Regions from separate parts of the Homo sapiens genome. Here region 2 is linked to region 1. Evidence: fine-mapped expression QTL. A gene starts in region 1. The other region holds a variant in brackets. All regions are shown on one strand. Distances are between the middles of the regions.

Region 1 (5,381 bases):
ATGTTCTAAAATTGACTGTGGTGATGGTTGCACAACTTTGCAAATATGATGCTGATGATCCTCAAACCACACTTTGAGCAATAAGGCTATAGCTATATATTTATGTATATAATTCACATATATGTATATTCTTGTGTGTGTGTGTGACAATTATATTAGCCCCCCGCCTCCATTTTACTGACCATAATATTAAGCAAAAAGAAAAAGCAAGAATTTTATTATTTATTTATTTATTTATTTATTTATTTGAGATAGAGTCTCACTATGTTCCCCAGGCTGGAGTGCAGTTGCATTGATCCTGGCTCACTGCAACCTCTGCCTCTCAGGCTCAAGAGATCCTCCCACCTCAGCCTCCCAAGTAGCTGGGACCACAGGTGGGCACCACCATGCCTGGCAAATTTTTTGTATTTTTGGTAGAGACGGGGTTTCATCATGTTGCTCAGGCTGGTCTCAAACTCCTGAGATAAGCGATTTGCGTTCCTCAGCCTCCCAGACTGTTGGGATTACAGACATGAGCCACAGCACTCGGCAAAGAATTTTAATTTCTACATTTTTTTACCTTTTGGAGGGCCTAAATTCACACACACACATATGACATGTATCCATTCATTTCAGGGGTTAAAACACAGTGGCCTATTATCTCTTACAACTTCATGTGAATCAACAATTATCTCAAGGCTGGACGCAGTGGGTCATGCCTGTAATTCCAGGACTTTGGGAGACCGAGGTGGGCGGATCACTTGAGGCCAGGAGTTCGAGACCAGCATGGCCACCAAGACAAATTCCTGTCTCTACTAAAAATACAAAAATTAGCCAGGCTTGGTGGCACATGCCTGTAATTCCAGCTACTCTGGAGGCTGAGGCGGGAAGATTGTTTGAACCCGGGAGACAGAGGTTACAGTGAGCCAAGATCCCACCACTGCAGTCCAGCCTGGGCAACAGAGTGAGACTCTGTCTCCAAAAAAACCAAACCAAACAAACAAAAAAAAGCCCCACATATTTCAAAAAATTTTATTTTAAGAAAAACAAAAAAACCTACTTTCAATTAAAAAACACAGTGGTTATGTTAATGCATCACCACATTCCTAGAGAAGTATTAAGGCAATGTATGTAAGTAAGTACATATACTCAGGTGCATTGATAATACGATTTATGTATACTTTCAGCAACAACACAAGGGGAGAGAAGATGATTTACTAGCTCTCCTCATAAAGCTACAAACAAAACCACAGATGTAACTCAGGTGGGAGTTTCCTAGTTTATGGCTAACTTTAGCTTATTAACACGACAAATATTATCATTTTCACTGAAAAATTTGACATTTTTTGTTGACTCAGCCAATCCAAGAAGCTTAATTAATATATAGTCCCTGCCCTCAAGAGACTTCCAATATAGTTGGAAGAGACCAGGCAAACACAAAGAAAGCTAACAATGCAATATATACCACAAGGCAGCATATAATTAGTTTTCGAATGAGTGCTAACAGACCTTGAGACCACTGGTTAAAATGTTTATATATCTATATAGATATACATAAATGGTAAATATGTTTTTTCATTTTCAAAAACTTTTTTTCCGTTTTCAAAAACTGTGAACCACCACTAGCAGACACCCTATAACAAGGCCCACTGTTCATTTTTAAATTACACATATAAAATGTTTCATTCAGAAAGCAAACCTGAAGCCCTTCAGCCTCCTCCACACTCACAATTCAAATTATATAGAACCTACGAAGCTGGTTAGAAAGCAGGTAATCTCAGAAAAAAGGGTGGGGGTGACAGCAGAAACAACCAGGGATCCACAAGGTCATACCAAAGGGGTGGTCGGAAAGGAACCTGGGGAAGGGAGAGAAGGCTGGAACGCTTACTTACTTCTTGTTATCAGTGTAGAAGCGTGTTTGGAGCTGAGCCATGGCGAGGAGTACACACGACTTGCCCACGGAAACGTACGGGTTAGCAGACCCACAACACGAAGCTCCTGCCTTTTAAGACTACAAAGAGGCAGCTCAAAATTAGACTGCACAGGTAAGCGAGGAACTGCAGTCTAAGCCTGGACTCTGCCTTCTGCCCTCCGGTCTCCTCTGCAGAAAGCACGAGGTTGCCCTTCTACAGACGCCCAGACCACAAACATCGACTACCTACTCCTAGATTTAGGAGTCATCGATTAGAAAAGGATAGTCGTAAAGGTAGCATGTCCCTTTAATCATTGTTAGAATTCTTCCCATACGTGTGGGCCCGTAATCGATTAGGAAAAAGATCCCACTCAAATCCGCTTTATTAATAAAAAATTTTTTTTCAAGAGGCTGTCCTGAGCCTGGATAGTTCAAACACAGCTCCTAGTTACTACAAGTCTCAGAAAGCATCGCTTCTCAAACGCTGTGACCACCGGGAATTGTAGTCTTTTTTTGCCACGCTGCCCTCAGAGTATCTTATTTGCATTAAATCCTCTAGACTCCAGCCAGATATCAAATTTCCTCTGCCTTCAGCTTTGCTTGACTAACGCCTTGCCAGTTTTTTTTTCTCATACATATTCCCAACCAGAGGCTCACTCGGCAGAGGTTTTTCCTAAATCTCGCCTCTAACTGCGGCTTTTAGAGAGAGGCGAGAGGCGGAAATACAAAGAAAAGAACGGATGAGAGAGGAAACGGTCGACGGTGGCCGATAGTGGTCCTACTGTCGTGGGACTGCTCTGCGCGCTCCCGGTGGGGCGCGCCTGCGCATTATGCTGGTCTCCATGGCGGGGCCTCGGAGCCAAGACGAGGTTGAGTAGACTCGTTTTGAATTTTCTCCCCTCTGCTCCGGCGGACTTCCCATGTCGCCTTGTGGGGCTATCGGCGGCGGCAGGACTGGGGGAGTCAGAGGTCTGGCAGCGCTGTCTGCGCAGACCTACCGGACGCTACCTCCCAACCCCCCGTCTTCCTCCTGCCTCCTCCTCCTCCCGTCACCTCCTGACCCGCCGGAGCTCCGAGCAACTGCCGGCCTCCGCCCCCAGCCGCAGCCGGTCACTGGCGGCGCCTTCCGCGCCAAGCTTGGGGGCCTTTTCGGGGTCCCACATGGCACGGCTTCCGACCCCCGGCCCGGGACGGGGCTCGCAGGCCCCAGAGGGGCAGGCTGGAGAAGGAGGAGGTTAGGTGTCTTCAGGAGGGTTGCTGAGCCCAAGGACGCGCCATCGCCGCGGAGAAGGAGCCGGACCCCTTGGGCGGAGCGCCCAATGTGTGGTCCCTCACGCCGTCCCGCACCTTGCTTTTTAGGGTTCTTTTTCCGCTTTCTGAGCCCTTTTATACCTTACGTTTAGAAGGGGAAAATCATCCTCCCACACCTTCTCCCCGACTTTTTGCCTTTTTTGTCTTGAAGTTACCCAAAGGCCTGTGTATTGTTCTCAATGGTCCCAAGAATTACTCTAATATAGTTGTTTTTCTGAGGGAGGATGGATGGAGATAACTATCCTGATCCCAATGTCACTTTTTAAGGCATTCGCTTCAAGAGACAAGCAGTTTAGAATCAGGCAGAACTGGATTGCAAAATTTATGGGCAGACCGGTATGTGTGCAGGTGAAGACAAAGCTTTCCTTTTTTACGTTGTTTAAAGATGTCCTACTGTAAGGTAGACGCCTAATGTTTAAATGAACGCCTAATATTTAAATAGAGAATGAGAAGAGATTTAAACAATTGGAAGAAAAAATAATTTTTATTAGAGAGCAATGACAATAAAAGTAGGACTCTTTTCAGTTTACTCACCTTTGTAGCTCCGAATCCGGGCCCTGGAACCAGAATTCCTGGGTTCAAATCCTGCCTCTGCTACTTGATTAACCTTTTTGTGCCACACTTTTATCAACTATAAGAATTAACTGCGGCATCGGAAGCACTCAGTATATGTTAATTATTATCATCAAATAGTTACTAATTCCAGTTTAACTAGAAGCTTTGCCAGCGTGAATAGATAAGGGAGAATAGCCACATTGAGTGGAGGAATAAAATTAGAAAACCTCTGTGCTGAAGTCCCAGGAGATCACTTATTAGGCTTGAGCTTGCTAATGGAAGTGGTGATCGTTTAACCATGTGGTTATTGTAGTGGTGAGGATTTACACATTAAATAAGTCTTGGGCATCTGAAGCTTGAAACACTTTCTTAATGAAATCTTGCCGTTGAATCTGTACTTACTGGTAATATGTCATTGGTTAAAATATATTTATAAAATGTATAATTGACCAGCAGGTTAATACATTTTTATCATTAATTTGAAATTTATCAAAATGAGAATATACAGTACCTGACAGTAGAGTTTGATCTTAATTTGATTTGAAAATTATGATCAGGAAAATAACCTGAATATATGCTTAATAATATAAGACTTTCAGTTTGCAAAACAGAAATCCTGACTTGACTAAAATACACTTTTCATTTGACGGAGACCTTTAGTTAAGGAAAGATTAGTTTTAGCATTCAACATAACTAAATACCCAGCATTATGTTTTACGGTTTTTTTCAACAATGATTTATGTGTCGTGTTTGGTGTTGCCTCCAAACAGTACCTAGGATAGCTGATGCTTTTACTTTGAGTCTTTTTCTTTAGTTGGAACATTAATTGCAAGCTTTTGGTTGGTAATCATTTTTTATGGGATGTATTTACTATATGGTCCTCATGGAGACACATTGTTATCTGGAGAACCACAGTTTGGAAAATACATTTCTCTTTATTATAAAGTTTTTTGTTTTATATATATAATGCCACAGTGTGATAGGATACAAAGACTATGCATTAGGGCTTTGGAGTCTTAATTGTTCTTTGTGTTTTTCTTTTTTTCCAATTTGATTATGGATCCAAGCCTAATGCACTCTGTGATCTTAAGCAAGTTTCTTGACAGTTCCAGTTTTCTTATCTACAAACAGAGACAAGAAGATCTACCTCAGAGTCATTGTAAGGATTAAATAAATTTGTAAAGCTCTCAAAGAGCAGCCTAATCCCAGCATTTTGGGTGGCTGAGGCGGGTGGAGCACCTGAGGTCAGGAGTTTGAGACCAGCCTGGCCAACATGGTGAAACCCCGTCTCTGCTAAAAATACAAAAATTGGCCAGGCATGGTGGGGGGTGCCTATAATCCGAGCTACTGGGGAGGCTGAGGCAGGAGAATTGCTTGAACCTGGAAGGTGGAGTTTGCAGTAAGCCAAGATCACGCCACTTCACTCCAGCCTGGGCAAAAAGAGTGAAACTCCATCTCAAAAAAAAAAAACAAACAAAAAATCAGAGCAAAAAGGTAAAAAGTTTGTGCAGAGTAAAACATGGGTAGAAATGGATTGCAGGGAAGCTTATAGTGAGAATAAACCATAAATAAAATTGACATTGTGAACACCAGCCTTAGATTTTTTTTCCCTGAAAATTAAAAA
Region 2 (5,381 bases), 340 kb after region 1:
AGCCCCTCTTTAGGTTCTGTTGTGCTGCTGGGTAGGGGCGCCAGGTCAGGGGAGAGCTGATCTCCCCTATGGGCTGAAGTTCTCCCGGCAGTGCCTGGGGTGACAGGTCTCCCCTGGCCCAGGGCTCCGGGCTCCATCCTCCAGAGGCAAAGGAGACAGTAAGCCTGCCATCTCGGGTCCTTTCATGGTCACCAAAAATGTTGTGGGGAACTGAGGACCAGAGAGACTGATATGGAGAACAGGAGGATTGTTTATTTTAAGGTACGCACCGGCTCAGTGGATTCACATCCAAAAAACTAAACATTGAACAAAGACAGAACGTGGTTTTTATAAGCAGATTTACAGAAGCAAAACAAAAGCAGTTAATCATACAGTGACAGGTCACATAATCTATAGCATAACATAAGTTGTGGCCTTGCATAGCTGGTGAGCTTGTAGCTGCATTGAAAGAAAAACAAGAACTGGTTAAATACAGACATTTGTAATACATAATCATGCTTAAGAAGCCAAGGAAAGGAGTAACAGTAAAAAAATTTGTCTTTTTCTTTTTCTTTTTTTTTTTCCTTTAACCTTGCTCTGGATGGGGGTGGTGGTGTTTGGAGCCTATTCCTTTGGCCTTGGCTTTCTGGACAGTGTTATCTTATAACTGTCCTTGAAGTGAGCTTGCTAGGCAGAGGAAAACTTGTTCTTTTCTTTCTTTTTTTCTTTTTTTTTGATACAGAGTCTCACTCTGTCGCCCAGGCTGGAATGCAGTGGCGTGATCTCGGCTCACTGCAACTTCCGCCTCCTGGGTTCAAGCAATTCTCTGCCTCAGCCTCCCGAGTAGCTGGGATTACAGGCGCCTGCCACCATGCCCAGCTCATTTTTTGTATTTTTAGTAGAGATGGGGTTTCACCATCTTGGCCAGGCTGGTCTTGAACTCCTGACCTTGTGATCCACCACCTCAGCCTCCCAAAGTGCTGGGATTACAGGCATGAGCCACCGTGCCCGGCCTTGTTCTTTTATTTTTAACCCTTGCCTTCCCTGTTACTTAGAGTGAATGAATGCATATTTATTTTTAAATTTCTGCCTCAACTTGAGGTCAGGAGTTCGAGACTGGCCTGCCTAATATGATGAAACCCTATCTTTACTAAAAATACAAAAATTAGCTGCGTGTGGTAGCACATGCCTGTAGTCCTAGCTACTCGGGAGGCTGAGGCAGAAGCATCATGTGAACCAAGGAGGTGAAGGTTGCAGTGAGCCAAGATCATGCCACTCACTGCACTCCAGTCTGGGCGACAGAGCTAGACTCGTCTCAAAAAAAAAAAAAAAATTGTTATCATTCCGGTGTTTTGTGTGCACAATAGAATTTTAATGTAATCAGATTATACTGCGTGGATAGTCTTTGTGTTTTTTATTTACCATTGTATTGTAAGCATTTTTATAGCACTTAGTATTCTTTGAAAATCACATTTGATCTGGGTGTAGTGGCTCACACCTGTAATCTCAGCACTTTGAGAGGCTGAGGTGGGTGGATCGTTTGAGGGCAGGAGTTCCAGACCAGCCTGGCCACCATGGTGAAAGTCCATCTCTACTAAAAATACAGAAAAATTAGCCGGGCGTGGTGGCACGTGTCTGTAGTCCCAGCTACTTAGGATGTTGAGGCATGAGAATCACTTGAACCTGGGAGGCGGAGGTTGCAGTGAGCCAAGATTGCGCCACTGCACTCCAGCCTGGGTAACAGAGTGAGACTCCGTCTCCAAAAAAAAAAAGAGGAAAAAAGAAAAGAAAATCACATTTGAAAAGAATCTCTAATGTCAATTTTACCTTCTAAATGCCTTTCTAATTGATCTACTTCTCTCCCACCAGCATTGCCATCACCCTGGTTTAGATTTCCATGATCTTACCTGGATTGCTTATTTCTCTTTCCCCTTTCCTTCCCATGTATTTTCCCGTGCTTTGCAGTTGACAGATACCTCTTGGCAGTCTGATGAAACCTTCAACTCCTGAGAATAACATTTTTAAATGCATAGCTAAAGCAAACCAATATAGTTACAAAATATTAATACTTTTTAAAAAAACTATGATATTATATTTGCCTCTTTGTTAACGTATTAAATAGCAAGATCTAATAATCCTTCCAGAAACTTCCATGATTTTAAAGTAGTGATGCAAGGGCCAAAATTATTATTATGAGATTTTTCCAGTATTTATAATCGGAACATATTTTGAGATTTGTATTGGTTTAAAAAGTCAGAGCCTATACTCACAATTGAAGGAAATGCTAAGTTTCATTCAGAGGTTAGTTAAAAAGAAAGATTGTTTTTTCCCCTGATCCAAGTTCATGGACTGCACTGGATTCCATGAACAGACCCTTTGGTATCTGTGGACTCTAGTTTGAAAACCCCTTTGTTCTTGGGACAAACTCCAAATTTTTAATGTAGTCTTCAGGACTTTTTATGATTTAGCCTGGCTACTTTTCCAGCCTGGTTTCCCACATTCTCATTTGGCTTATAGTCTAGCCATACTTGTTTTCTTTTAAGTCTTCAGATGTACCCTGTTCCCTCCTATCTCAGGGCCTGTCTATGCTATTCCCATTGCGTGGAATGCACCTCCAGTCATCCACACACCAAGCTAATGTGTGTTCATTTTTCAGCTCCTAGTTTAAATGTCACTTCCCCAGGGACGCTATCTCTGATCATCCCACATTGCTGGATAGGTCCCCTTTTATTTATTTTGTTTTAATTTTTTAAGACAGAGTCTTGCTGTGTTGCCTAGGCTGTAGTGCAATGACCTGATCATAGCTCACTGTAGCCTCAAATTCCTGGGCCCACGGGATCCTCCCACCCCAGCCGCCTGAGTAGCTGGGATTACAGGCATGTGCCACCATGCCTGGCTAGTTGTTTTTAAAATTTTTTGTAAAGACGTGTGTCTCATTATGTTTCCTAGGCTGGTCTTGAACTCGTGGCCTCAAGTGTTCCTCCCACCTTCATCTCGCAAAGTGCTGGGATTGCAAGCATGAGCCACTGCACCCGGCCAGTTTCCCCTTTTAGATGCTATCATAACACCCCGTGCCTTTCCTTTACAACACTTTTCCCGGTTTATAATT[C/G]TGTTTTATTTATTTATTTTTATTTTTATTTTCTTTTTGAGATGGAGTCTCGCTCTGTCTGCCAGGCTGGAGTGCAGTGGTGCAATCTTGGCATACTGCAACCTCTGCCTCCCGGGTTCAAGCAATTCTCCTTCCTTAACCTCCCTAGTAGCTGGCATTACAGGTGCATGCCACAACGCCCGGTAATTTTTGTATTTTTAGTAGAGGCAGGGTTTCGCCATGTTAGTCAGTTTGGTCTCAAACTCCTAGCCTCAGGTGATCCGCCTGCCTCAGCCTCCCAAAGTGCTGGGATTACAGGCGTGAGCCACCGCACCCACCAGTAATTCTATTTTTTGTAATCCTTTGAGTGTCTGTCTCCCTCACTTAAGTGTGTGCTCCGTGAAGGTAGGGACTATTTTATTTTGATTACTGCTGTATACTTGGCTCTTGTTATAGAGCAGGCCCTCAGTCAATATTTATTACATCAGTGAATGAATACTGATAACTTAATGTTCCTAAATTATTTGACTCCTCTCTTACTTCCATAGGTCTGTCTTTTTTCTCCTCTGAAACATTTTTCCCAGCCTTGCATGGCTAACTTCTACTCCAGCCTCCAGTTTAGTTAAATATGCTTCCCTCCATGTACCATCTCTAAACTTCCATAACAACTGGATATATTTACATAAAATTAAGATTTTTTTTTGTTTTTTATTATTTTTTAAAATTTTCACATACAGTTGGGGTCTCACCATGTCGCCCAGGCTGGTCTCAAACTCCTGGGCTCAAGCAGTCCACTCACTTTGGCCTCCCGTGATGAGACCCTGTCTCTACAAAAAAAAAAAGAGAAAAATTAGCTGAGCATGGTGGTGTATGCCTGTGGTCCCAGCTAATCGAGAGTCTATGAGGCGGGAGGATCGCTTGAGCCTGGGAGGCAGAGGTTGCAGTGAGCCAAGGTTGCGCCACTGCACTCTAGCCTAGGCGACTGTGAGACACTGTCTCAAAAAAAAAAAAAAAAATTCCATTTGGTCAGTTTGGGTTTATTTTCCTTTCCCTCTTCTATAACTTTGTTTATTCTTCCTAAAAATGTTCTGACTACACATTGTAAGCATTTTTGTATTTAAATATCTGGTAGTTCTCTTAAGAGTATGCCTTATTAAATTTAAAAATATCCATTAAAAAATTTTTTTTTTGCCGGTCTCAGTGGCTCACGCCTATAATCCCAGCACTTTGGGGGGCCGACGCAGGTGGATCACAAGGTCAGGAGTTCAAGACCAGCCTGGCCAACAAAGTGAAACTCCGTCTCTACTAAAAATACAAAAAATTAGCTGGGCGTGGTGGCAGGCGCCTGTAATCCCAGCTACTCAGGAGGCTGAGGCAGGAGAATTGCTTGAACCCAGGAGGCAGAGGTTGCAGCAAGCTGAGATCGCTCCACTGCACACCAGCCCAGGCAACAGTGCATGGACTCCATCTCAAAAAGAAAAAAAAAAATGTGGTTACTTAGTAGGTGTATATATTTATGGGGTACATGAGGTATTTTGATACAGACATACAATGTGTAATAATCACATTAGGGTAAATCAGGTATCTTTTTTTATTTTTTTCAGTCAAGGTCTCGCACTGTTGCCTGGGCTCAAGTGCAGTGGCACAATTATAGCTCACTGGAGCATCGAATTCCTGGGCTGAAGGGATCCTCCTGCCTCAGCCTCCTGAGTAACTAGGACCACAGGCACGTGCCACCCTGCCCAGCTAATTTTTGTATTTTTATGTAGAGATGCGGTCACACTATATTTCCTATGCTACTCTTAAAATCCTGGTCTCAAGTGATCCTCCTGCCTCGGGCTCCCGAAGCACTAGGATTACAGGTGTGAGCCACTGTGCCTCAGGCCTTTACAGTATCCACTTTTAAAAATTACATTTGGAAGCTGGGCATAGTGGCACATGCCTGTATTCCCAACTACTCAGGAGGAAGGATCGCATCAGCCCAGGAGTTCAAGGGTATTGTGAGTGATAATTGTGCCTGTGAATAGCCCCTGCACTCCTGCCTGGGCAACATAGCAGGACCCTATGTTTAAAAAAAAAAAAAAAAAAAACGGTTAGTAAATGTTGAATGCCATTTTTCCCATATGGAAGTTCTAGCTGAAACTCACACTTTCCATTTAAGACTTGAGACTGACTTTCTCAGTCCACTGTAAGCATTAATTAATACATTGGTTCTACTCTGCACACTTCTGCTTCTAAAAACAAACTGAACAAGACCTTCCTTTGCCTGTGGTTGCTGCTGATTAGTTTCTATCTTTTCCAGCTTTCATCTGTA

Which allele goes with the higher level. Positions count from the first base shown, and alleles are read on the strand shown. Sizes are in standard deviations (SD) of each study's normalised expression.
For the expression in pancreas of the gene that starts at base 2,711 in region 1, allele C in region 2 goes with a higher level than allele G (small effect, 0.38 SD a copy in GTEx).

What was found. PIP is the estimated chance that this variant, and not a neighbour inherited with it, causes the effect.
Region 2: its variant is the best candidate, but not a certain one, in a credible set for the expression of CARF in pancreas (GTEx, PIP 0.63).

Annotation. Positions count from the first base shown.
Region 1 is chr2:202,909,565-202,914,945 of GRCh38, forward strand. It overlaps CARF (calcium responsive transcription factor), which reads left to right and starts at 2,711. Exons shown (of 17, transcript NM_024744.17): 1 at 2,711-3,538. WDR12 (WD repeat domain 12) reads right to left here and starts at 2,109. Exons shown (of 13, transcript NM_018256.4): 1 at 1,872-2,109. The coding sequence starts at 1,912. RefSeq lists enhancers at 2,292-2,441, 2,452-2,601, 2,642-2,841, 2,942-2,991.
Region 2 is chr2:203,253,252-203,258,632 of GRCh38, forward strand. All of the region lies in intron 4 of CYP20A1 (cytochrome P450 family 20 subfamily A member 1), which reads left to right. Among named protein-coding and RNA genes, the nearest start is that of CYP20A1, 17 kb to the left of the region's middle. The variant C/G (reference allele first, on the strand shown) is at 3,089.